7 linked regions of the Homo sapiens genome follow. The protein of the gene in region 5 interacts with the protein of the main gene of each other region in a pairwise test. Each region holds a gene or a part of one and is shown on either strand. Other genes may lie near its edges.

What was found.
Region 1: the proteins of ITSN2 (region 5) and PIK3AP1 interact in a two-hybrid assay, tested with the Homo sapiens proteins (one large-scale study listed by BioGRID).
Region 2: the proteins of ITSN2 (region 5) and CCDC88C interact in a two-hybrid assay, tested with the Homo sapiens proteins (one large-scale study listed by BioGRID).
Region 3: the proteins of ITSN2 (region 5) and MBNL1 interact in a two-hybrid assay, tested with the Homo sapiens proteins (one large-scale study listed by BioGRID).
Region 4: the proteins of ITSN2 (region 5) and SYN1 interact in a two-hybrid assay, tested with the Homo sapiens proteins (one large-scale study listed by BioGRID).
Region 6: the proteins of ITSN2 (region 5) and AHDC1 interact in a two-hybrid assay, tested with the Homo sapiens proteins (one large-scale study listed by BioGRID).
Region 7: the proteins of ITSN2 (region 5) and DLGAP1 interact in a two-hybrid assay, tested with the Homo sapiens proteins (one large-scale study listed by BioGRID).

The regions. Positions count from the first base shown.
Region 1 is NC_000010.11:96,703,515-96,707,014, reverse strand, and holds part of PIK3AP1 (phosphoinositide 3-kinase adapter protein 1), read left to right. Parts: intron 1-3,500. UniProt on the Homo sapiens protein: Signaling adapter that contributes to B-cell development by linking B-cell receptor (BCR) signaling to the phosphoinositide 3-kinase (PI3K)-Akt signaling pathway.
Region 2 is NC_000014.9:91,313,321-91,316,820, reverse strand, and holds part of CCDC88C (protein Daple), read left to right. Parts: intron 1-1,033; coding exon 1,034-1,171; intron 1,172-2,670; coding exon 2,671-3,500. UniProt on the Homo sapiens protein: Required for activation of guanine nucleotide-binding proteins (G-proteins) during non-canonical Wnt signaling. Binds to ligand-activated Wnt receptor FZD7, displacing DVL1 from the FZD7 receptor and leading to inhibition of canonical Wnt signaling.
Region 3 is NC_000003.12:152,463,605-152,466,280, forward strand, and holds the end of MBNL1 (muscleblind-like protein 1), read left to right. Parts: 3' UTR 1-2,176; downstream 2,177-2,676. UniProt on the Homo sapiens protein: Mediates pre-mRNA alternative splicing regulation. Acts either as activator or repressor of splicing on specific pre-mRNA targets. Inhibits cardiac troponin-T (TNNT2) pre-mRNA exon inclusion but induces insulin receptor (IR) pre-mRNA exon inclusion in muscle.
Region 4 is NC_000023.11:47,606,358-47,609,857, reverse strand, and holds part of SYN1 (synapsin-1), read left to right. Parts: intron 1-2,659; coding exon 2,660-2,717; intron 2,718-2,821; coding exon 2,822-2,913; intron 2,914-3,500. UniProt on the Homo sapiens protein: Neuronal phosphoprotein that coats synaptic vesicles, and binds to the cytoskeleton. Acts as a regulator of synaptic vesicles trafficking, involved in the control of neurotransmitter release at the pre-synaptic terminal.
Region 5 is NC_000002.12:24,207,037-24,210,536, reverse strand, and holds part of ITSN2 (intersectin-2), read left to right. Parts: intron 1-503; coding exon 504-719; intron 720-1,315; coding exon 1,316-1,437; intron 1,438-2,217; coding exon 2,218-2,300; intron 2,301-3,500.
Region 6 is NC_000001.11:27,545,145-27,548,644, reverse strand, and holds part of AHDC1 (transcription factor Gibbin), read left to right. Parts: coding exon 1-1,341; 3' UTR 1,342-1,384; intron 1,385-3,323; exon of another isoform or gene 3,324-3,389; intron 3,390-3,500. UniProt on the Homo sapiens protein: Transcription factor required for the proper patterning of the epidermis, which plays a key role in early epithelial morphogenesis. Directly binds promoter and enhancer regions and acts by maintaining local enhancer-promoter chromatin architecture.
Region 7 is NC_000018.10:3,878,308-3,881,807, reverse strand, and holds part of DLGAP1 (disks large-associated protein 1), read left to right. Parts: intron 1-1,667; 5' UTR 1,668-1,739; coding exon 1,740-2,696; intron 2,697-3,400; exon of another isoform or gene 3,401-3,476; intron 3,477-3,500. UniProt on the Homo sapiens protein: Part of the postsynaptic scaffold in neuronal cells.

The sequences.
Region 1 (3,500 bases), on a different chromosome or scaffold from region 5:
TTGCAGTTCAGAATCAATGGATATAGGGACAAATGGAATTGTAAGAAAGAGAAGAGGAGGAAGGAAGCCTTATAGCCTCAATATAACTTTCTTATCTGGTATTAGGTTTGTGAATTTGGGGATTCAAGATCTCTGTCGGTGCTAGGATGACTTGGGTTTGCTTTTTGGGTATTCCATAGCCATGGCCCTTGGTTGGCCTTGACTCTGAGGCCATATTCCTGATTTTTTTTGCTGGACAAGCTTTCTTAACAAACCTGATACTCAGAGTCTGGCAGTGTAGAAAAAAGAGCATTGACCAGGGTTAGGGACACTGCATTACCCGGCTCTGCTGCTAACCAGATGCCTAGTACTGAGCAAGTCATTTTGCCTCTTTGAGTTCCAGTTTCCTTTTCTGTAAGTGGCAGATTTAGACTTGATCTAAGACACTTCCCAAGGCTAAAAATCTGTGATTCACCTAGGCCAGAAAATCTTAAATATTTTTGAAGTATGACCTTCTTGCCACATTTCATACCTGCTTTGACTCCCAGGAAGCTTAGGGCTAGAACAGTATCTAAAGACAGTACTCTCCCTACACTACATTTCTGGGATAATTGTGTCCTTAGGTACATTCCCTATAACTTGTGATAACCCATCTTTTTAAAAAATACTCCTCTTGCATACATGAGGTTTTCCTAAGGTACCTCAAAATAAAAGCAAAAGCTAATATTTTCATATACGTTACTACACCAGCTGCCCAGTCCCATGAGAAATAAGTACATGAAACTTGTTTCTTTGACTTTCTCTGTTAAAAAAAAGAATCCCAATAAGAAATTGGCTGGGCATGGCCGGGAGCGGTGGCTCACGCCTGTAATCCCAGCCCTTTGGGAGGCCGAGGCGGGCGGATCACGAGGTCAGGAGTTTGAGACCATCCTGGCTAACACGGTGAAACCCTGTCTCTACTAAAAATACAAAAAATTAGTCGGGCGAGGTGGCGGGCGCCTGTAGTCCCAGCTACTCGGGAGGCTGAGGCAGGAGAATGGCGTGAACCTGGGAGGCGGAGCTTGCAGTGAGCCGAGATGGCACCACTGCACTCCAGCCTGAGTGACAGATCAAGACTCCATCTCAAAAAAAAAAAAAAAAAAAAAAAAAAACAACTGGCTGGGCATAGTGGCTTATGCCTGTAATCCCAGCACTTTGGGAGGCTGGAGCAGAAGGATTTCTGCTTTGAAGTTTGAGACCTGTCTGGACAACATGGCAAAACCCTGTCTCTACAAAAAATACAAAAATTAGCTGGGCATGGTGGTGTGTACCTGTTGTCCTAGCTACTTGGGAGGCTGAGGTGGGAGGATCACCTGAGCCTTGGAGGTTGAGGCTGCAGTGAGCTGTGACTGAGCCACTGCATTCCAGCCTGGGGATCAACAGAGTGACACCCTGTCTCAAAAAAAAAAAAAAAAAAGAAATGCAATGGAAAATTGATAATGGGGATGAATTAATAGTAGAGACAATAATTGTGGAGTTATTGATTGTAGGGCTATTGAAACTACAGGGAGACAAATTTTAGGAAAAACTTCCTAATTATTAGAGCTGTGTGAAGGTGGAATGGGTTGCCTTTGAAGGTGGTAAGTGCCACATCTCCAGGAGTAAGAGAGTAGATACTGCAGACGTGCTGTAAAGGGATTTAGCTTTGGGGCCAGGGTTGGGCCATGTGACCTTTACAGCCTTTTGATCATAACATTCCCTTACAAGAAGTTCCCCTTTTCACCAGGAACACATTTCTCTTCTGAATTCAATTTTCCTCCTTCACCTGGTATACCTGAGGTTTTTGACTCCCAACTGAAGAAATACTGGTCATGTTCCTACTCAGACCCCAGCAGTAAATAGCATGAAAAATACCTCACTTTATAATTTATGTAACCCTTTAAAATGGTAAAAGTCCCAGAATATTTACATGGCTATATGTCTATTTTTCTTAACTTTGAGATACCTTTTGATAAAAAGGACTATTTAATGAGATATTCACTAAGCCCATTTAAAATTTAGGCTAAATTTTAGACCATGTAAAGTTTAAAGTAAAGCTTAAAGATCAAAGAGAGTGGAGTGGGTAATAGAGTAGAGGAGGTTATTTTATTCTTGAAACTTAGATTACAGGTAGTCAATTATACTTTCTTTTGCTGCTATGCTAGCTAAACAATGCTTCTCAAATTTTAATGTGCACAGAAGGACCTGGGGATCTTGTAAATATGCATATACTGACTCCTTGGGTGGGGCCAAGATCCTGCATTTCTTTTTTTTTCTTTTTTCTTTTTTTTTTCTTTTTGAGATAGAGTCTCGCTCTGTCACCCAGGCTGGAATACAGTGGCGCAATCTCGGCTCACTGCTACCTCTGCCTCCCTGGGTTCGAGCAATTCTCCTGCCTCAGCCTCCCAAGTAGATGGAATTACAGGCATGCACCACCATGCCTGGCTGATTTTTGTATTTTTAGTAGTGATGGGGTTTCACCATGTTGGCCAGGCTGGTCTTGAACTCCTGACCTCAAGTGATCTGCCTGCCTCAGCCTCACAAAGTGTTGGGATTACAGGCGTGAGCCACCGCACCCAGCCAGATTCTGCATTTCTAACAAGCTCACAGGTGATGCTGATGCTGCTGGTCCAGGTACCACTGAGTACAAACAAGGGGTCTAAGCCACCTTTCTGTTGTCAGGTCAATGGTCATGTACCTCTGTCGCATGGGAAGTATTTTCTCTAATCTCCACTTCTCCGGAAATGGAGGCACCATCACATCAGGGCAGCTCCTGGACACCCATCAGTTAGATATAAAATTAGGCCAGTATTTGGTGCTTAGGCCATCAGACTTCAGGGTAGAGCTCCTGCGTTCTCTTCCTTTGCCCCTGCTCATAGATTCGGTGCGTTCACTCTGGCAGTTTTTAATCTTTCAGGTTTCTAGATGTTGGGATGGGGTGCTACTGAGATCACAATCTTTACTCTTTCTTCATTTAATAAGCCCCTTGATCAAAATTACTACTAAAATATGTTTTGGAGGTTTTATTTCCCACCCCACTCTCCAAATTTGTCAGCCACCTTAAAATTAAGCAGATGTTTTAATTGGAGTCTTCAGTGTGTTGGATCAGCCAGTTTATTTTCCAAGTTCTTCATCTGTAAAATGATGGGGTTGGACCAGATAATTTGGAAGGTTTCTTTCAGCCTCCAGCACTGTAATATACCATTATAAGTTTTCTAAGAAGATGGCAAATTCCCGAGAACCTTTTTAACTGATTCAGTTTAGTTCCAAAACGTTTGCAGTGATATATACCTGTGCATAGAAGACTGGACTATTGATCTGACTTTTTGGACTTGTTGGAAGATTATTTTAAATTAAGGAAGTGAGAAAACCCCAGGTACAGCACAGAAATTATTTCCTCTTTTTACTGGGGCTCTATTCTTTGCTTCAAATCTCAATGGAATATAAAAATAGATTCTGTTAGACTGTGTGGGAAAGGACTCTGTGGGTGATATTGAGTGTTT
Region 2 (3,500 bases), on a different chromosome or scaffold from region 5:
GGACAAAGAACCACAGAATGAGAAAGATGAGGGGTCCATCAGGGGTAGGTAGGACCCAGGAAATCACACCTTTAGACCAGAAGCAACAGCAATCAGAAATGCAAGGGTTGGCCGGGCACAGTGGCTCATGCCTGTTAACCCCAGCACTTTGGGAGACCGAGGCAGGCGGATCACCTGTGAGACCAGCCTGGCCAACACAGTGAAATCCCGTCTCTACTAAAAATACAAAAATTAGATGGGCGTGGTGGCAGGCTTCTGTAGTCCTAGTTACTCAGGAGGCTGAGGCAGGAAAATTGCTTGAATCTGGGAGGCGGAGGTTGCAGTGAGCCAAGATCATGCCATTGTACTCCATCCTGGGCGACAAGAGCAAAACTCCATCTCAAAAAAAAAAAAAGGTTGAGTCAGAATCTGCATTTCAGCAAGGCGGGCACTCGTGTGCAACGGGGAGCATAAGGACCTCTGTTTAGGTAGTTCATGTTTAGGAGGGCTGCGAACAGGTGGGTTCTGGCATAAGACCTTGATGTCAAGGAGATCACTGGGTGGCTGTCCAGGCCAGACAAAATGTGGCCTGGCCTGTGAGGGAGATGGTGGAAGTGTGGAAGGGGTAAGAAGGACAGGGCTTGGTGACACATTTCCATGGAGGTGAAAGAGGAAGAGATATAACAGAGGGCCACTTGAGCAGCCAGGTGACATCACCAACTGAGGCAGGAAGTCTCCAGGAGGACAGGAAGCTGGGTGCGTGTGAAACCCCCGAGGGCACCCAGCGGTGGCGGCCTCAGGCGGTGGAGCACATGGCAGCAAGGATGGGGCAGAGGGACGCTGGGGGGATGGTGATGGTTTGCTTCCTGGTGACTTTCTGTCTTAAGAGTGACAGCTGTGGTGTGGGGAGTTGCTACAGAATGATGTCAGGAGGTCTTCCCTTGAGAAAAGACCCATCAGTGCATTCTGTTGGGGTGGTTTCTGTTTTGTTTTAAATCATGGTTCACTTCGTAGGACTGATGTCTGCACTGGGCTGGGTCTTTTGGTTCTGCAGATTGAAAAGTTACAAACCCAGCTGGAGAGAGAAAAGCAGAGCAACCAAGATCTGGAGACCCTCAGTGAGGAGCTGATCAGAGAGAAGGAGCAGCTGCAGAGTGACATGGAGACCCTGAAGGCTGACAAAGCCAGGCAGGTAGGTGCCTCCACCACTAACGCCTCTCCTAGAACCCCTGCCTGCAAGACGGAGAGCCGGGATTACAGCCATTCCTGGTACTGTATTGTGGATGCATGGATTATCCGTTACCTAGCTTAGCCACAGCTTAAATCAGCAATTCTCAATTTCCCAACTGGCGGTGGGAAAAGGTGGGGTGAATTTTGCCTCCCAAGGGACATTTGGCAATGTCTCAAGACATTTTTGATTGTCGTGACCCCGGGGAAGAGAGGGGGTGGTGCTCCTGGCATGGAGTGGGTGGAGGCCAAGGATGCTGCTACATATTCTGCAGTGCGCAGGTCAGGAACACTCCATCTGCAAATGTTCTTAGTGCCCCAGCTGAGAACCCTGGCAAATCCGTGTGGTTTTATTTGCCTCACACGGCGGGCAGTCCAGGGCTGATGTAGTGGCTCAGGGATGCCATCAGGAACCAGGCCTCTTGCCTACAGCTCTGCCAGCCTTAGCAGTGGCTGCTGCACATCCCTAAGGTACAAGCAGGAGAAAGGTGGAGGGCTTAGCATCACAGGGAAACCCTCCCAAGGATGCTCCGTAGACGTCACGTTGGCCAGAACTAACGTGTGGCTACCTCTGCCTGCAAAGAATGCCAGGGCACCAAGTATTTTAGTTTTTTGTTTTTGTTTATGTTTTCTTTTGTTTAATAGAGATGGGATCTCACAGTGTTGCCCAGGCCGGTCTCGAACTCCTGGGCTCAAGTGATCCTCCCGTCTTAGCTTCCCAAAGTGTTGGGATTACAGGCATGAGCCACCATCACTGGCCCCAAGTATTTTAGCTTTTTGGCATCTGTAGTAGAGGAATAAAAAGCCCAGAGAAGATGGTTAGAATGGTGCATGGTAAACAGACGGACAGGGCCCTGCCCAGATGTTGCTCACAGCCAGGAAGGCACACTTCCAGGTGACAGGCAAGATGATCTCAGGAGGGTGCTACTGAGAGAATAGGGTGCTGAGGGAGAGAATACTGGGATACACGGCTACCTTAGAATCATCATGCCAGGATGTTTTGGGGAACTGACCCCAAGTATAAGAAAGAGCCAGTGAGGCTGATAGCCAGAGGAAAGTACTCCAGGCAGAGGGATCAGCATGTGCAAAGTGTTCACAGTCAGCTGGGCTAGGAGCAGTGAGCAGGAGGTGGAGAGTAGTGTAAGCAGAGGCTGCAGAGGTGGGCAGGGCCCGGCTACCAGAGACCAAGAGAAACCGCTGAAACTTAAGTGAGGGAGAGAGATGTATTTACATTTTAAAATCATCCTGGCTGCTCTGAGTGTATTCTGACTTGAACCATCTAAGTGGTGGTGTCTGTGCCCACTCACCTGTGTCTGTCAAGCCTCTGGGGAACGCACAGGCAGTGTCTGAGCACAGGTAGGACAGCCGTTCAAGGCCTTCTCTCTCCCATCCCCAGTGTGAGCCCATGTCACTGAAATAGGTTCCTGCAGCAGCCTGGGTTGTGCCTGTTGTGTTTTCCCGTAGATCAAGGACCTTGAGCAGGAAAAGGACCACCTCAACCGAGCCATGTGGTCGCTGCGGGAGAGGTCGCAGGTCAGCAGTGAGGCCCGCATGAAAGACGTGGAGAAGGAGAACAAAGCCCTCCACCAGACGGTGACGGAGGCCAATGGCAAGCTCAGCCAGTTGGAGTTTGAGAAGCGGCAGCTGCACAGGGACTTGGAGCAGGCCAAGGAGAAGGGGGAGCGGGCAGAGAAGCTGGAGAGGGAGCTACAGCGACTCCAGGAGGAGAACGGGAGGCTGGCCAGGAAGGTGACCTCCCTGGAGACAGCCACCGAGAAAGTCGAGGCCCTGGAGCATGAGAGCCAGGGCCTGCAGCTGGAGAACCGGACTCTGAGGAAGTCTCTGGACACCTTGCAGAACGTGTCCCTGCAGCTTGAGGGCCTGGAGCGTGACAACAAGCAGCTGGACGCAGAGAACCTGGAGCTGCGCAGGCTGGTGGAGACCATGCGCTTCACCAGCACCAAGCTGGCACAGATGGAGAGGGAGAACCAGCAGCTGGAGCGTGAGAAGGAGGAGCTGAGGAAGAACGTGGATCTGCTCAAGGCGCTGGGCAAGAAGTCAGAGCGCCTGGAGCTCAGCTACCAGAGCGTGAGCGCTGAGAACCTCCGGCTGCAGCAGAGCCTGGAGAGCAGCAGCCACAAGACGCAGACCTTGGAGAGTGAGCTGGGCGAGCTGGAGGCTGAGCGCCAGGCGCTGCGGCGGGACCTGGAGGCCCTCCGGCTGGCCAATGCACAGTTGGAGGGGGCCGAGAAGGACAGGAAGGCCCTGGAGCAGGAGGTGGCCCAGCTCGAGAA
Region 3 (2,676 bases), on a different chromosome or scaffold from region 5:
ATGGGTGAATTTTATATGTGATTTTTGTTTTGTTTTGTTTTGTTCAGATTAACTGCTTATAGCCTTAGAAAGCCTTTTACAAAATTAAAAAAAAAATAGATGTGCATTCAGTTTTTAAGAATGGAATCATCCAAAGGAATTCCTTTTTTTGAGGTTTGGATGTTGCAGCTAGTAAAGGATATTTTTGCTCTGTTCAGCAGTTCTAAAAATTGCTGAAGTAGGGGCCAGGTCACTGGTAGTTATAGTATGGAATGGGAGAAGTGAAAGTTCAGTTATAGAACTTTCCATACTTCCAAGTTTACTGCAAGTTTTTATGCTTGAGAGAGATGCTTTCTAATATAAGACTGATGTGTTGATTTTACTGATTGTACTGTACATCTATTAAAGCCTTAGATTATTACATTACGGGTTGGAACCCATACCAATGTAATTTCAATCGTGTTAAGAAAGTAATGGTGACTTCACATGTTATTGTAGTTAGTTACATTATAGAATATTACTTATTTTTCTTGTTAAAATGTAGTTTTTCATTTCCTACATTTATTAGATTTTCATTTTCTATTAACAATTGAATACCATTTCAGTTTATAGACTTGTTTTATTAGATTTTACCAATGAATTTTTCAAAATACAAAAAAAAGTAGTTTTTCCTTCATAACATACTCAGTTTTGAATTACATGTAGTGTCACATGAATATTCGTATTGTTAACTAAATGATTTATATTTTACTGATTTAATATTACAGTGTAAGAATGTCAGTCATTGTTAGTTCTTGTCTAGTTTTCATTAAAAGAACAAAGATCTTTTATATGGATATCTTATAAATATATAATCATTGCTAAGTAAGAAGTTAAGTTGTTGCTATCGCAACAATCCTGGCAGACAATTGAGTAATATTTTGATGATTTATTTTGTTTGTAATTAGTTATTATAAGAAGATCTAGATCCTAGATATTAGAATAAAATTTATTTTCTACTGTATCCATTTCAAATGTTAAAATATTGTTTAATATTTTTGAAATCCCTGAGTATCAGGCCTTGTTATAAATAAGCTGCATAATCAATAAATAGAACAAGGGACTTTTTGTTGATAATCCAAATACTCAAAGTTTACGTAATGAAAATTATAGCGTGTGTGCAAACTCTTGAGGGTTGATTATGCTGCAATTTAGCATGTTGGAACGTCTAGGGAGAAGGTTGACTTTTTGCACTTCTGTATATAGTCAAAAGAGAGAAACCTGTATAATAGTAAGATCTTATTTTGAATAAAAACGTCTATAATTACAAGGAGTTTTGTTAAGGCTAATACAATGACAGACTGAGCAAAATTGCTTGCAAAAGTGGCACAGAGTTAGCACTCCATACCCCTTCAAACATGTTGCTTTGCTTTCTTGTGGACAGCTTGTAGTTTGCCAGGATTTTTTCAGCTGGAAAGATACGCCATCCTTTCAAACCCTCATGACTGACAAAAACTCCATGGGGCCAAATCTGCCTGAAGATCATTACCAAAAATAGCAGGTACTTCTACCATTAAGGTGAAATCATGGATCAGATATTCCTTACATTTTTCAAAACTACTGCATGTTTAAAACTTCAACAAAAAAAGAGAGAAAGAACTATACTAAGAACATATATTATTCAGATCAGTTTCTGCCAATTTCAGTGGTTTATTGTTCACAAAAAAATCTTCAAAACAAGTATTGACTTTCACAAAATTTAAATCATAAACAGGCAAACCAAACAGCACACTGTAGCTATAGTTGTTATGTGATTGTTTTTTAATTGCTGTAGGATCCTGTTCTTTCAGCAGGTGAAAAATAAAACGCAGTTCAAATTTCATGGTTTTAATTTTCAACTCAGAAGCACTCAAAAATGCAAAATGTGATAATGGGCACTTGTTTAAAAGAATTAGTGTATCCAGCCTTCACTCCAGCTGGTTAAAAATGTTGCACTTATCAGCAACCCTACCACTTTCATCTGCTGAAAGGACAAATGTGCTTGGTTTTACTATTATGTAATCACAACTTACTTTCTGCTTGTAGTTGCTTAAAATTATGTATTTTGTCTTGGGCTGCAATTTGTTTTATGCTTATTTTATTATTACTGCAGTAGTTGACTTTGCTGTATGGAAAAATAAAGTGAAATTGCCCTAATAAAACTTCTCTTTCTTAAGTATATTCGTGTATCTGAGATTGAATACTAAATTATTTTTGCGTGTTTCATGTATTCATGCATATGTATCTATCTTTACAAACATATTGATGTATAAATTTGTTACCTGGTTTTAACTGATTGCAACTGCGAGGAAGGCATTTGTTGTCTTTCTCACTAATTATCCTTTGACACTGAGAGGGAGAATCTAAATCAGCATATATTGCCCTCCTGTGCCCAATGTTTTCTGAAATTCTTGCCTTCCCCTGTCTGACACTTTAAGCGCTGATTGAAATAGTTTTAAGTGTCAGGGCAAAAAACGGTAAGAAAAAAATTATTATACATTATAGATCACTATCTATCTTTTATTAAAGAAATCTTATTTGCCTGACTGCTGCGTCAGCTGATTAGGACTGGAAATCAGGCAATCCAAGAGAGGTGATGGCACTGTATTCAGAGGGATGAAAGAAATTATGCATATGATCTATGAGGCAGGCCATGATATTACTCCTGAGGGGTGTGTG
Region 4 (3,500 bases), on a different chromosome or scaffold from region 5:
CACCTGGGAGAAGAAATTCCACACAGCATCTTTTCCTACTACTGACACCTCCAGTGTCATAGGATCTGCTGGATCATATGGCCTAAGTCACATCCTGCTTGCACCACAGCCCGGACCTGCTGCAGAGCACTTTGCGTTGCTACAGCATATCGGAGGCTATCTATGCCCCACCTCCCACTACTGATGGGTCCTCACTGCCATCTGGCTGCTGGGTAACCCAGCTCCAGAATTGCATTAGACCACCCTTGTAGTTTGACTTCCATGGCCCACTGTTTTAGGTTGGGTTCCCTGGAAAAAGACTTTGAGGTGGAGATTTGCATGCAGGAGGCTTACTGGAGTGTGCCATTGGGATCAACACTTGTGAGGAGGGTTGGGTTGAGCAGAGGAAGAGGCTGGCTCAAGATGTAGTTGCCTTAGGGGCCTCCGCTGCTCTTAGGGGGAGCCCTGGGGCTGGGAGGGTCCTTCAGAGTCAGCCCAGATTGAGGCAAGGAGGCTGGCCTTTCTTTCCCTTCATAGACCAGACCATGGGGATGCCCTCATGAAGTAGGTGTAACCTTGGACAAGGCAGTTCCCTGTGACAAGACAATTCCCAGTGGGGACACAGCCATGAGCTGTCAGTAGCTGCCATTCAAGGTACATTGTCCCTGAAGAGGAGGCCTGAGCAGACCACCACAGTATCCAACTACACTTATGGTCAGAAAAGTTTTAGAAACAGTGATACACCCTCATCATCCCCACTCATCAGTTTATAGATGAAAAATGTGCAGGGCTGAGAGAGATTCTCTCTCAACACTTCTGAGGGGATAGTGTCAGCGATGGTGTGTGTGTGTGTGTGTGTGTGTGTGTGTGTGTCAGAGAGAGAGCAAGGAAAAAGAAGTAGCTGTACTTGGGGTCTCTTGCATATGTCAGTCAAGTCACCAGGGTCCATTTGTGCCGTGTGTGTGTGTGTGTGTGTGTGTGTGTGTGTGTGTCTGTCCAAGACCCTGATTGTATGTGTGTCAGTGACCAGTAGCCCTGAAAGTGTCTCTCCCCCTCATCCCCCTTCCATGATAAACCTGATTGAGGATGAGCTTCCATCCCTGGAGCAAGCAGCCTGTTGGCTAGAAATCTTGAGCCTGGGGGAGGAGGCCACCGGAAACCAAGCCCAGCTGGGGACGGGCCCGGGGACAATGACATAGCAGTTCGTGATGTTCCTACTGCTGCTCCCACTCCCCCTCCCTCCTGTTGCTCCCTCTCCTCCTCAGCTGCATTCCTCCCTGCCCCCCATCATTGCCAGCTACACTGGCTTCTCTAGAGCCACCCAGCCTGCACCACTCAATCCACTCCTCCTTATCGGATGCAGCTGCCCACCTATGGCCATTGTGTTTCTCACAGCACACAACCACACATGGTGAATGTGCTCCTCCTTGCGAAAGGGCCAGAGAGCAGAGAGATGCTTCAGGCCACACAGCCAGACACAGGCACTGACATATACACAGGCACTAAAAAATACACAAAAACAGGCACGCTTCAGAGAAATGTAGTTTCTTTCTCTCCTTCCTTCCTTCCTTCCCCTTCCTTCCTTCCCCTTCCTTCCTTCCTTCCTTCCTTCCTTCCTTCCTTCCTTCCTTCCTTCCTTCCTTCCTTCCTTCCTTTCTCTTTATTTCTTTCTCTTTTTTGCCTAGGTCTTGCTCTGTTCCCCAAGCTGGAGTGCAGTGGTGCAATCACGGCTCACTACAGCCTCGACCTCCTGGGCTCAAGCCATTCTCCTGCCTCAGCCTCCCCAGTAGCTGGGACTACAGGCATGCACCACTATGCCTGGCTAGTTTTTGTTTTTTGGGTTTTTTGGAGATGGAGTCTCGCTCTTGTTGCCCAGGCTGGAGTGTAATAGCACCATTTTGGCTCACTGCAACTTCCGCCTCCTGGGTCCAAGTGATTCTCCTGCCTCAGCCTCCCAAGTAGCTGGGAATACAGGCATGCACCACTACACCTGGCTAATTTTGTATTTTAGTAGAGAAGGGGTTTCACCATGTTGGTCAGGCTGGTCTCGAACTCTTGACCTCAGGTGATCCACCCGCCTTGGCCTCTCAAAGTTGTGGGATTATAGACGTGAGCCACAGCCCTCGGCTTTTGTTTTTTTTTTTTTTTTTTCAATTTTTTTTGTAGAGATGGGGGTCTCTCTATATTGTCCAGGGTGGTCTCCAACCCTTGGCCTGAAGCAATCCTCCTACCTCCAGCCTCCCAAAGTGCTGAGATTACAGGCGTAAGCCACCGTACCTGGCCAGATAGGTGTTTTCTAAGGTTCTTTGCTGTTTACCGGTCTCCATGCAATTTCAAAGTATGTTCTAATTTACATAGTGCTGCTAATTTTGTGAAGTTTTTTTAAAAAATTTACAATGACAATGTGATGAGCAGACTAAATTTTGGGAAATACCTGCTCTCTGCAGTGTAAGGCCACATTTTACAGTTTGCAATGTCCTTTAATATTTTTGCAACTCCATGAGGATTACAACAGACATTATTCACAAAGCACTCTTGATTTTTTCAAAATATTTCAATAATTATAAGGCACTTTGTGGTTTCTTTAGTAGCATTGAAGGGGCAAAAGGGTCAAGGGCCTGTGTTTTGTCTTCCCTTCTGAGATTTCATCATTGACAGATGTGTTGTTTTTCCTCTCCAGGGCAAAATACTTCAAAGGGAAAAAGATCCATGGAGAAATTGACATTAAAGTAGAACAGGTAAGTTGGGACATTTGGACCTGGGGGTCAGTTGTCCATACTGCAAACTGAGTGGCCATTTTTGTGTGATGTAGGTGAATCACCAGTTTTTTTCTCCTTCCCAGGCCGAATTCTCTGATCTCAACCTTGTGGCCCATGCCAATGGTGGATTCTCTGTGGATATGGAAGTTCTTCGGAATGGGGTGAAGGTCGTGCGGTGAGTATAAGAAGGGTACCTTGGTGTTATGAGCAAGGCATAAGAACTCTCCCTTAGAGCTGGGGGAAAGTTCCTACCTCCCCACCCATCCTTCTGTGGGCAAGAACTTAGGCATGGAATGTGGGGAGACAACTTTTCTTCAGAAAAAGAGCCAGGGACCCCAGGATGCCACAAGTCAGACTTTAAAAAAAAATATATATATATATATATATATTTCAGACAGGGTCTTGCTCTGTCTCCCAGGCTGGAGTGCACTGGCACAATCATGGCTCTCTGCAGCTGCAACCTCTCAGGCTCAAGTGATCCTCCCACCTCAGCCTCCCAAGTAGCTGAGACTACAGGTGCGCACCACCATGCCTAGCTAATTTTTATGTTTTTTGTAGAGATGGGGGGGGTCCTCACTATGTTGCCCAGGTTTGTCTCAAACTTCTGGGCTCAAACAATCTACCTGCCTTGTCCTCTCAAAGTGCTGGGATTACAGGCATGAGCCGCCACACCCAGCCTTCAATTATTAATTAAATAAACATTTGCTAGACATCTGCTGCATGCCAGATGCTGCTCTCAGGACTTCATATTCAATAAATATT
Region 5 (3,500 bases):
GGGTTGGAGCGATTCTCTGGCCTCCATCTCCCAAGTAGCTGGGACTACAGGCATCTGCTACGATGCCCAGCTAATTTTCGTATTTTTAGTAGAGCTGGGGTTTCACCATGTTGGCCAGGCTGGTCTTGAACTCCTGGCGTCAAGTGATCCTCCCGCCTCTGTCTCCCAACAGTGCTGGGATTGCAGGCATGAAGGGCATTCCTTCTTGGATTGTCATCTTCCTTTCTCCTAAGGAGAGAACACTGGGATTTTTTGTTTTGAGTTCTTTGAATTCAGCTGGTAGAATCAGTGTTCTGTGGCTAGAAGTAATGATTTTCACTGGGCCAGTTTGGACTCTGAAGAGTAATGTATTTAAGGATCTTTCATGCAAAGTGAATGATTCTAGCCACATTCCCACCTAGAAAACTCCACCACAGTATCCTCAGGCCCAGGGCACTGGCCTCTCAGGGGCACTGGATGGTTTGTGCCGGGATTTAAAAAGTGAAATTTTCTTTCTCTTTAAGCAACTTATTTTCAACTCTCTCACCAACTGCCTGGGGCCCCGGAAGCTCTTACACAGTGGGAAATTATACAAGACCAAGAGCAACAAGGAACTGCACGGATTCCTCTTCAATGACTTCCTGCTTCTTACCTACATGGTCAAGCAGTTTGCTGTTTCCTCTGGCTCTGAGAAACTTTTCAGCTCGAAGTCCAATGCTCAATTCAAAATGTATAAAACGGTGAGTATCACGCGTCTGGGGGTAGCATCAGGGGCCTAATGAGGTGTTGCCTCTATCTTAAGGCCTTCCTGGCAGACCCTGAGCTGGCCTTACGGGACCCTCCTCACCTGGTTCCAGATCGCTCGTGCTTCCTTTGCTGCTTCCCACGGGAAGGGCCCCATGCAGCTGGGCACTCCCCACCTGCCACAGGCCATCAGCCAGATTCCAGCTGAGATTCTGGCTTCCTCCTGGCCAGCGTGACACCTGGGCTCACCACTGTGTGCATTCAGCATTGGGTCTCTGTAAGCCGAGCCCCAGCACAGCACCAGCGTTGCTAGCAGAGAGCCTTTTGCACCAGCCGTCATGGGCGCTTGGAGCTCCTGTCCCCACCCAGTCCCAACACCTGACCCACCTCGATAATGACTTTTCCAGAAATGGAGGCTTCATTGTTCTTACAAATGGAGGTTTCATTTGTTCTGTGTAGAAGACCTTAGACGCTAGACCCCTTTCTCCTTCTCAACAAGGCTCTTCAGAACAAACAGAACTCTCTCTGGACATAGGCGGGTGGAGTGTTCTAGCCCATCTCACAGCCTGTGTTTTGGCCCTAATTCTTTCAGCCCATTTTCCTGAATGAAGTCTTGGTGAAACTGCCCACAGACCCTTCCAGCGATGAGCCTGTCTTCCACATTTCCCACATTGATCGGGTCTACACCCTCCGAACAGACAACATTAATGAGAGGTCAGTCCTGACCATGTGTGGCCTGCCTTGAACTCTGGGAGAAGGCCTGGACGTCTCCCTCTGCCATAAACCCATCTCCAGCCGTGCTTAAGCCCCACTAATTCTGTATCCTGAACCTCTCTTAACACATCCCCTCTGCTCCAGTCCCATGGTAGGCCTTGGTCACTGCAGCTGCCTCCTAACATGCTTCCCGGCTTCTAGTCTCTCCCCACACCACTCAGCAGCCTTCCCAAATGGCAGATCAGCACCTGAGGCCCTGCTACAGTCCCTGCAGGGGCTGCCCGCAGGCGACAGCCCACTGTGCTTTGCTGGTTTCCGAGGCCTCCTTGGGCCACAGGCCTCAGCCCTCGTCCCTCCACCTGCAGACTTTCGCCCCTCAGGCGCCCTTGTGTGGGTGCCATCCCCGCTGTTCCCAGCTTCCTTCAGGCTGCAGCTCCAACAGTGCCTCCGCGGCGCCAACCCGGGGGGTGCTGCTGCTCCTCTGTGTGCGCTAGAACCCCTCGTGACAGGTATCATCCGTGGGGCCAATGCATCATCTGTCTCCAGGTCCCAGCGCCTTGCGAGTGCCTGGCATTTTGTGGTCAGCCAAGAAGGGTCACTACCAGCTCTCATACTCCATTAGCATAAGCATCTTTCAGTTGACTAATATCAGGTCTTTGATAGGAAACTTGTGAAAGTTGAGGTTAGCAAAAGACTGAAGAACATGTGCAGAGCTCTGGGGCTCCACGCTGACCTGTGAGGGTGGGATGCGGCCAACGGCTGCCCCTGCTTCTCCCGTAGGACCGCCTGGGTGCAGAAGATCAAGGCGGCGTCTGAGCAGTACATCGACACCGAGAAGAAGAAGCGTGAGAAAGCTTACCAAGGTATCAGGGTGCCCGGAGGGTGGGACGCAGCCCCCAGGGGCCCTAGGAATGCCGGCCACTGCTCCTGCAGTCAGGCTGATGATATAGGGACGGGTCTGAAAGACCAGACCTGCTGCGGGATCAGACCAGAGAGCCCTCCCCTCTTGAAGCTACTACTGCAAACCTCCCTGGGGCTCCTGCCCACACAGACACGGGCTGGCAGTGCCAGCTCCGGGACCTCCCTCTCTGCACCACCTCTATCCCCCCCACTCCACTGCACCTTCTCCACTCCTTTCTCTCCATGACTCACCTCACCTCTGCTTGGGCTGTGGTGCTCCATTACATGCCACACCTGTGGTCTGTCTCCCTTCAGCTCCTGAGCAGCCACTGCTCCTCCTCACCCTCCTCTAGGGCCTGCCATCCACCCTCTCCCTTTGCAGCCAGGGGGCCTAGACCCTAAGTCTGCCCTCTCCCCATCCTTCTGCCCCTGCCTCCTCCCCCTTCTCACTTCACCAGACTTCAGTCCACGTCCTGTCCCCACCAGTGACACCAGTGGCCTAGTTAGTGGCTCAGCTCACTTTCCCTGCCCCAGCTCCCTGCACTGATGGCAGTCACTGAGGCGCTGCCTTCCCTCTGGACCCCATGGCCGCCTTCCCAGTTCTTCTTCCACCCTTGCCCAGGCCTCTCCCCGACCTCTGTAGCGCTCTCCCTCGGGGACCCCACCGACCCCCAGCTTCAGGGTCAGGCTAGCCACACTCTCCCAAGCCCGCGCCTCTGAACAGCACCCTCCAGAGAACCACCTGCCCCGCTGCTCCCACATCACACATCGGCTTTTCCCAAGGGACCACCAGCCTCCTTCCAGCAGCAGCTCCTCCTGGGACCCTCTGTGGACAGTAGTGTGGTCCCTGGCCACCCAGGCCCCTCCCTGGCACCTCACACCTGGTCAGCTGCACTGCAGTCCTCCTCCCTCGCCACTTTCCCATCGCCCTTTCCTGTCCCCGTATCACAGGCCCCCGATCTCCCACCCAGGCTGCAGCACAAGGCTCTCTTTCCTCTCTGCCACCCATCCTCTTCATTTCTGGAGTATTCTTTTTTCCAGAGCTGCTCTTATACCTCTTCCTGCTGAAGTATCTTCCCTATTGCCTCCCAAATTAACGACACATTTCTTACCCCACACTCAGGGCCCATCCCCACTACTACCTGCCACCCAGCCCCATCCCT
Region 6 (3,500 bases), on a different chromosome or scaffold from region 5:
GCTGTGTCGGAGACCTTCTCTGAGTCATCCTCCGACAGCACCCAGTTCAATCAGCCGGTTGGTGGCGGGGGGTTTCGGCGTGCCAACAGCGAGGCCTCAAGTAGTGAGGGCCAGTCGAGCCTGTCCAGCCTGGAGAAACTGATGATGGACTGGAACGAGGCATCATCTGCCCCCGGCTACAACTGGAACCAGAGTGTCCTCTTTCAGAGTAGCTCCAAGCCGGGCCGTGGACGGCGGAAGAAGGTGGACCTGTTCGAGGCCTCACATCTGGGCTTCCCGACATCCGCCTCTGCCGCTGCCTCAGGCTACCCATCCAAACGGAGCACTGGGCCCCGGCAGCCGCGAGGTGGACGGGGCGGTGGGGCCTGCTCAGCCAAGAAGGAGCGGGGTGGCGCAGCGGCCAAAGCCAAGTTCATCCCCAAGCCACAGCCAGTCAACCCACTGTTCCAGGACAGTCCTGACCTCGGCCTGGACTACTATAGCGGGGACAGCAGCATGTCACCACTGCCCTCACAGTCGAGGGCCTTCGGCGTGGGAGAGCGAGACCCCTGTGACTTCATAGGACCCTACTCCATGAACCCGTCCACGCCTTCCGATGGCACCTTTGGCCAAGGCTTCCACTGCGACTCGCCCAGCCTGGGTGCTCCCGAGCTTGATGGCAAGCATTTCCCACCGCTGGCCCACCCACCCACGGTGTTTGACGCCGGCCTGCAGAAGGCATACTCGCCCACCTGCTCGCCTACACTGGGCTTCAAGGAAGAGCTGCGGCCACCGCCCACAAAGCTGGCTGCCTGCGAGCCCCTCAAGCATGGACTCCAGGGGGCCAGCCTGGGCCACGCAGCTGCAGCCCAGGCCCACCTGAGCTGCCGGGACCTGCCGCTGGGCCAGCCCCACTACGATTCCCCCAGCTGCAAGGGCACAGCCTATTGGTACCCTCCAGGCTCAGCTGCCCGCAGCCCGCCCTATGAAGGCAAGGTGGGTACAGGGCTGCTGGCTGACTTCCTGGGCAGGACGGAGGCCGCGTGCCTCAGTGCCCCTCACCTGGCTAGCCCACCAGCCACGCCCAAGGCCGACAAGGAGCCACTGGAAATGGCCCGGCCCCCTGGCCCACCCCGTGGCCCTGCTGCAGCCGCTGCTGGCTATGGCTGCCCACTCCTTAGTGACTTGACCCTGTCCCCCGTGCCGAGGGACTCGCTGCTGCCCCTGCAGGACACCGCCTACAGGTACCCAGGCTTTATGCCCCAGGCGCATCCTGGCCTGGGTGGGGGCCCCAAGAGCGGCTTCCTGGGGCCCATGGCGGAACCTCACCCCGAGGACACATTCACCGTCACATCCCTGTAGTGCCAACTGAAGTGCCGACTGGACCGCGAGGTTTTGTTCCTGGGTGAGTCTGGGGATGTGGGCGCAGTGGGCAGAGGCCTGGGGGTGGGAAGAGGACATCAGAGCTTAGGCAAGGACAGAGGTATGGAGTGCAGGAAGCAAATGCAGGATTTAAGGGCAAGGCTGGGGACTGAGAGCAGGGTGTAGGGATTCAGGATTCGCTGTTGCGGACAGTCTCAGGAGGAGATGGGGTGCTTGGGCTGGGAACTCAGCAGGGGGCTTGAACGTTCGGGGGGGTCTTGTGAATTGAAATGGCCAGAGGACTACACACTGGATGGGGCCCTGTAGTTTGGTTTATTAAGCTTTCAATTATTTGTTCATGCTATGTCTTGGGCAGGAAGTGAGTATTTCCCAGGAAATACGCTGATAAGGGTGGGCATTTGTATCGCCCTGTGTGAGACAGGTGAAGGGAGAAGCAGGTTGGACGGTCGTCTACCCAGGGCCTATCCAGAGGACCAGCCCTGCTGGCACCCCCATTTCCCTGGGAGCTTCACTGATTCTAAGAGGCAGCCTGGTGAGGGCCAGGCCAAGAGTGGCCAGTGTGGCGTGGTCACACACTCTGCAAGGGCTTCACAGGATGGTCCAAAATGTCCTCTCTTGGCCTCCCAAGGTACCCCCAAAGGCTATTTTCCAACATCTTTGGTCTGAGATAGGCTAGGTGTGGCCAGGAGCATGTGGGGTAGGGACCCAGAAGTGGAGAAGGGGTGCTGGGGTCCCACTGTCCCTGCAAACCTGCAGCCAGTGAGGCTATCTTCAGGCAAAGGTATTTTGACCCTAGAAAAGCCAGTCCCTTTCCTGAAGCCAAAGACTTTTCTGAGAGTTCAGTTAAAGAGTGTTAAATGTTTTGATACTGTTTTTATCAGGTACTGTGACCTCATTAGTTGGAGTCAGTTTTAGTATTCTCAAGATTTGGTGTTTTAAAAAAGGAAAATAAAAGACAGAAAATGCCCCCAAAATGATCAAAGGGAACAAGGTTGAAGGAGCCATCTTCTTGAAGAACAGCCTGCTCCCGAAATACAGCCGCCACTGGCCCCACTTTTGGACAACAGATCTGTCACAAAATTGGCCCAGATGTGGTGGTTGGTGATGGGGCAGACTGGGGGCATGCCTGCGTCCCTCACCCTTCACCTCTGCTGCCACTGAAGCTTCCTGGGAGTTTCTCTTCCTGGAGGAGTAGCTGGGCTCCTGGAAAGTCCCATCCGTGCTCTGGGAGGCCATTCAAGGCCAGGGTGACTCAGGGTCCTGAAGTCATGTCAGTGGAAACTTGTTGCCCCCTCTCTGCCAGACCCCAGCTCCCCTGGTGCCTGAAGGTGACAAAGGGCAGCATGCAGGAGTCCGGAGGCCTCCGGGAGGACCATTCCCAGATTGGCCACCAACTTCCCACATGCCCTTGACCAAGCTTTTGCCCCTCTCTGGGCCTCAGTTTCCCCATCTTTTCAAGGAAATTTACTTTGATAATCCCTTAGGCTCTCGCAGCTCTGCATGGCAGAGACAATGAAGCAAACTTTTTTTTTTTTTTTGGCAGCATCTTTTCCTTCCTGATGAAGCCAGGCCAAGATTAAAATGGCCTTCCATTCCCCATGCGTCTCATTGCAACCAGCAGAGCCTCAGATCTGAAGCAGGCCAGGGAGAAACTGCTTAGGGTTTAAAATGTCAAACTCTTGATCCTTCTCACTGGCGGGGAGATGTCTCATGGATAATCCAGAAATGTGAAATAATCCAAAAACCGTTCCTCCCAGGCTCTGGGTGGGAAAATGGACGGGTGTGGGGGCTGGGTGTTTGGGCAGGTCACAGCTCAGTGAAGTACATAATGGAACCACCCAGTGAGGCCTGAACGCAGGAGGAACTGGGATGCCATCCAGCCCCACATTCTGGCCCTGCTCCCCACTCAGGGCTGTGAGTTAACTGCGCTGTCCTCAAACCAATGCATTCCATTGTTCTAGAGACATCTGTCCAGCACCCACTAGAAGCCAGGCATTGGGGGCACCACAGTGAACACCACAAATGAGGTACTGGTCCTCAGGGGGCTTCCCATTTAGAGGGAAAGACAGCAAACAGTGGCATTAAGCATGTGTTGATTCCAGCTGTGGGAAGCACTGTACAAGAGAAAAAAGCTAGAA
Region 7 (3,500 bases), on a different chromosome or scaffold from region 5:
CCGAGTAGCTGGGACTACAGGCGCCTGCCACCATGCCTGGCTAATTTTTTGTATTTTTAGAAGAGACGGGGTTTCACCGTGTTAGCCAGGATGGTCTCGATCTCCTGACCTCGTGATCCACCTGCCTCGGCCTCCCAAAGTGCTGGGATTACAGGAGTGAGCCACCGCGCCCGGCTCATCTTGTTTTTTAACTCACATTTTCATTCACACTTATGGAGTGCTATTACTGTGTGCTTACATGGCTGGATCGACACTAGGTCGGGGTACATAATGAGACTAATAGACTGGGAGGCAAGGAACATAAGCCGGAAGAGAGATCCTGAAGCAAGCAACTCTGTAGGTTCTGGGGAGTGAGTTTCAGATGTGGTGGAAACACAAGAGAGGAACTAATTCTCTCTGCTAGGAGAGCCAGCAGAGGTTTCCTAGAGGAACTGAGCCCCTCTCCAGTTCTATCTTTAACAATTAACATGTAGAGACTAGCCTGACCAACATGGTGAAACCTCATAAATACAAAAATTAGCCAGCCATGGTGGCAGGCACCTGTAATCCCAGCTACTCTGAAGGCTGGGGCAGGGGAATCACTTGAACCCGGGAGAGAGAGGTTGCAGTGAGCCGAGATCGTGCCATTGCACTGCAGCCTGGGCAACAGAGCAAAAACTCCATCTCACAAAAAAAAGAAAAAGAAAAGAAAAAGAAAAAAAAGAATAAGACCCAAGAAGCAAGAGAACGATACATCCAGTTATTGGGGTCATAGAGGGAAGGAGAGTTATTGTTTCAAATAATTTAAAAACAATTTGGTTTTTTTTTAAATATAGTTTTCTTTTCCTAGTTTTCTTTTTCTTTTTTTTTTTTTTTTTTTTTTTCTGAGATGGAGTCTGGCTCTGTCCCCCAGGCTGGAGTGCAGTGGTGCCATCTCTGCTCACTGCAAGCTCCGCCTCCCAGGTTCAAGCAATTCTCCTGCCTCAGCCTCCCGAATAGCTGGGATTACAGGCACCCACCACCACGCCCAGCTAATTTTTGTATTTTTAGTAGAGACAGGGTTTCACCATGTTGGCCAGGCTGGTCTCAAACTCCTGACCTCAGGTGATCCGCCCTCCTTGGCCCCCCAAAGTGCTGGGATTACAGGCGTGAGCCACCGCGCCCGGCCTCCTTTTTCTAGTTTTCTAGCTTTACCTCCACCTTCTCTCCCTACAGGCTTTGGAGTCAGCTTTCCTGCCCCACAGAGGTGACAGAGCTCTTCCAATAATGCGTTCAAGCTGTTTTAGGGGACACTGATTAAGTTCTGCCAAAAAAACACGGTCGCAGATGGCACCCTCAAGAGATCAATACCAGGCCTGCAGGGTTGCTCACGCCTGTAATCCCAGCACTTAAGGGAGGCCAAAGTGGGAGGACAGCTTGAGCCCAGGAGTTCGAGACCAAGCCTGGGCAATATAGTGAGACCTCCTCTCTACAAAAAATTAGCCAAGCGTGGTGGGGCCTGCCTGTAGTCCTAGCTACTCGGGAGGCTGGTGTGGAAGGATGGCTTGAGCCCAGGATGTGGAGGCTGCAGGAAGCAGAGATGGCGCCTGTGCACTCTAGCCTGGGCAACAGAGCAAGACCCTGTAAAGTGCAATACCTAATTTCCAAGAGAAATGTTAACGACTTTGCCCTTTTCTTCATTCCCCCAGATCCCTGCCCAAGACGGGTCTGGAGCCTGACTTCCGGGTGTCCATGACCCTGGCGGCTGCTTCCGGTCCGCCATGAAAGGGCTATCAGGCAGCCGCAGCCATCACCACGGGGTCACCTGCGACTCGGCCTGTGACTCGCTGTCGCACCACTCCGACCGCAAGCCCTACCTGCTGAGCCCAGTGGAGCACCACCCCGCAGACCACCCATACTACACCCAGCGGAACTCCTTCCAGGCTGAGTGCGTGGGCCCCTTCAGCGACCCGCTGGCCAGCAGCACCTTCCCCCGCAGGCACTACACCTCGCAGCAAGAGCTGAAGGACGAGTGTGCCCTGGTGCCCCGCACCCTGGCCACCAAGGCGAACCGCATCCCCGCCAACCTGCTGGACCAGTTCGAGCGGCAGCTGCCACTCAGCCGCGATGGCTATCACACCCTGCAGTACAAGCGCACGGCCGTGGAGCACCGCAGCGACAGCCCCGGCCGCATCCGCCACCTGGTGCACTCGGTCCAGAAGCTCTTCACCAAGTCGCACTCCCTGGAGGGGCCGTCCAAGGGCAGCGTCAACGGGGGCAAGGCCAGCCCTGACGAGGCGCAGGCGGCGCGCTATGGCAAACGCAGCAAGAGCAAGGAGCGGCGCGCGGAGCCCAAGGCCCGGCCCAGCACCTCCCCGGGCTGGTGGAGCTCGGACGACAACCTGGATGGTGACATGTGCATCTACCACGCCCCCTCGGGCGTGATGACCATGGGCAGGTGCCCCGACCGCTCGGCCTCACAGTACTTCCTGGAGGCCTACAACACCATCAGCGAGCAGGCGGTGAAGGCCTCCCGGAGCAACAACGACGTCAAGTGCTCCACCTGCGCCAACCTGCCGGTCAGCCTGGACACCCCGCTGCTGAAGAAGAGCGCCTGGTCCTCCACGCTCACCGTGAGCCGGGCCCGGGAGGTTTACCAGAAGGCCTCGGTGAACATGGACCAGGCCATGGTGAAGTCCGAGTCGTGTCAGCAAGAACGCTCCTGCCAGTACCTGCAGGTACCATTTCTGTCAATGATGGAGGCTTAGAAGTAGTACCTGGCATGCTTGTGTGGGCATTTCTCCTGGTTCTAGTCTTGGCACTACTCTGAATTGTCTATTAAGATAGGAACCTGTGCAAATTATTCGGCATCTCTGTGCCGAATTGCTCCTGTAGGGAAAATGAAAAGAAACAAATGCTACCGACCTCACCGGGTTATCTTAAGACACTAGATATCCAAGTGCTTTGAAAAGCACGCCTATGGAAAGGCAACCAGTTATTATGGGCTTCCTCTTTTGTCTGAGGGATCATAGGATGGGAAAGAGAGGAAAGGGAAGTCTACAGAGAATTTTAAAAGAAGTCCACCTTTCTTTAATTCAAAAATACGTGACGATCGTTTGAATTTTGGAAAGAGTTTCATTAGATCTATTCAGGGTTTTGTGGGGTGGTTTTCATTGTGAAATCCTGCCTGAAGCTATGTTAGAATACTGCGATGGTCATCATCATAACCATCAGTAACTACACCCCGACCTGAGCTTCCACATCGAGGGCACAGCAAATCAGGAAGACGCCCTGTGCCCTGAGGAGGTGGGGAGCTAGCCAGTTTGGGGACCTGACAAGCACAGCTGCAGACACCCAGGACAACAGAGAGGAGGAGGAAAAGGAGGAAGGATTAGAGAAGTAAAATACAATTAGTGTCAGCATGTAAATCCCACACACTTACAGAGCCACGGTAGGCTGCTCTTCCCCTGCCACTGTCTCCTTGTGTTTTCCTCCAGTTCACTGAAACCAGATGTTACCTGGATAAAAATATAGGAGAGAGA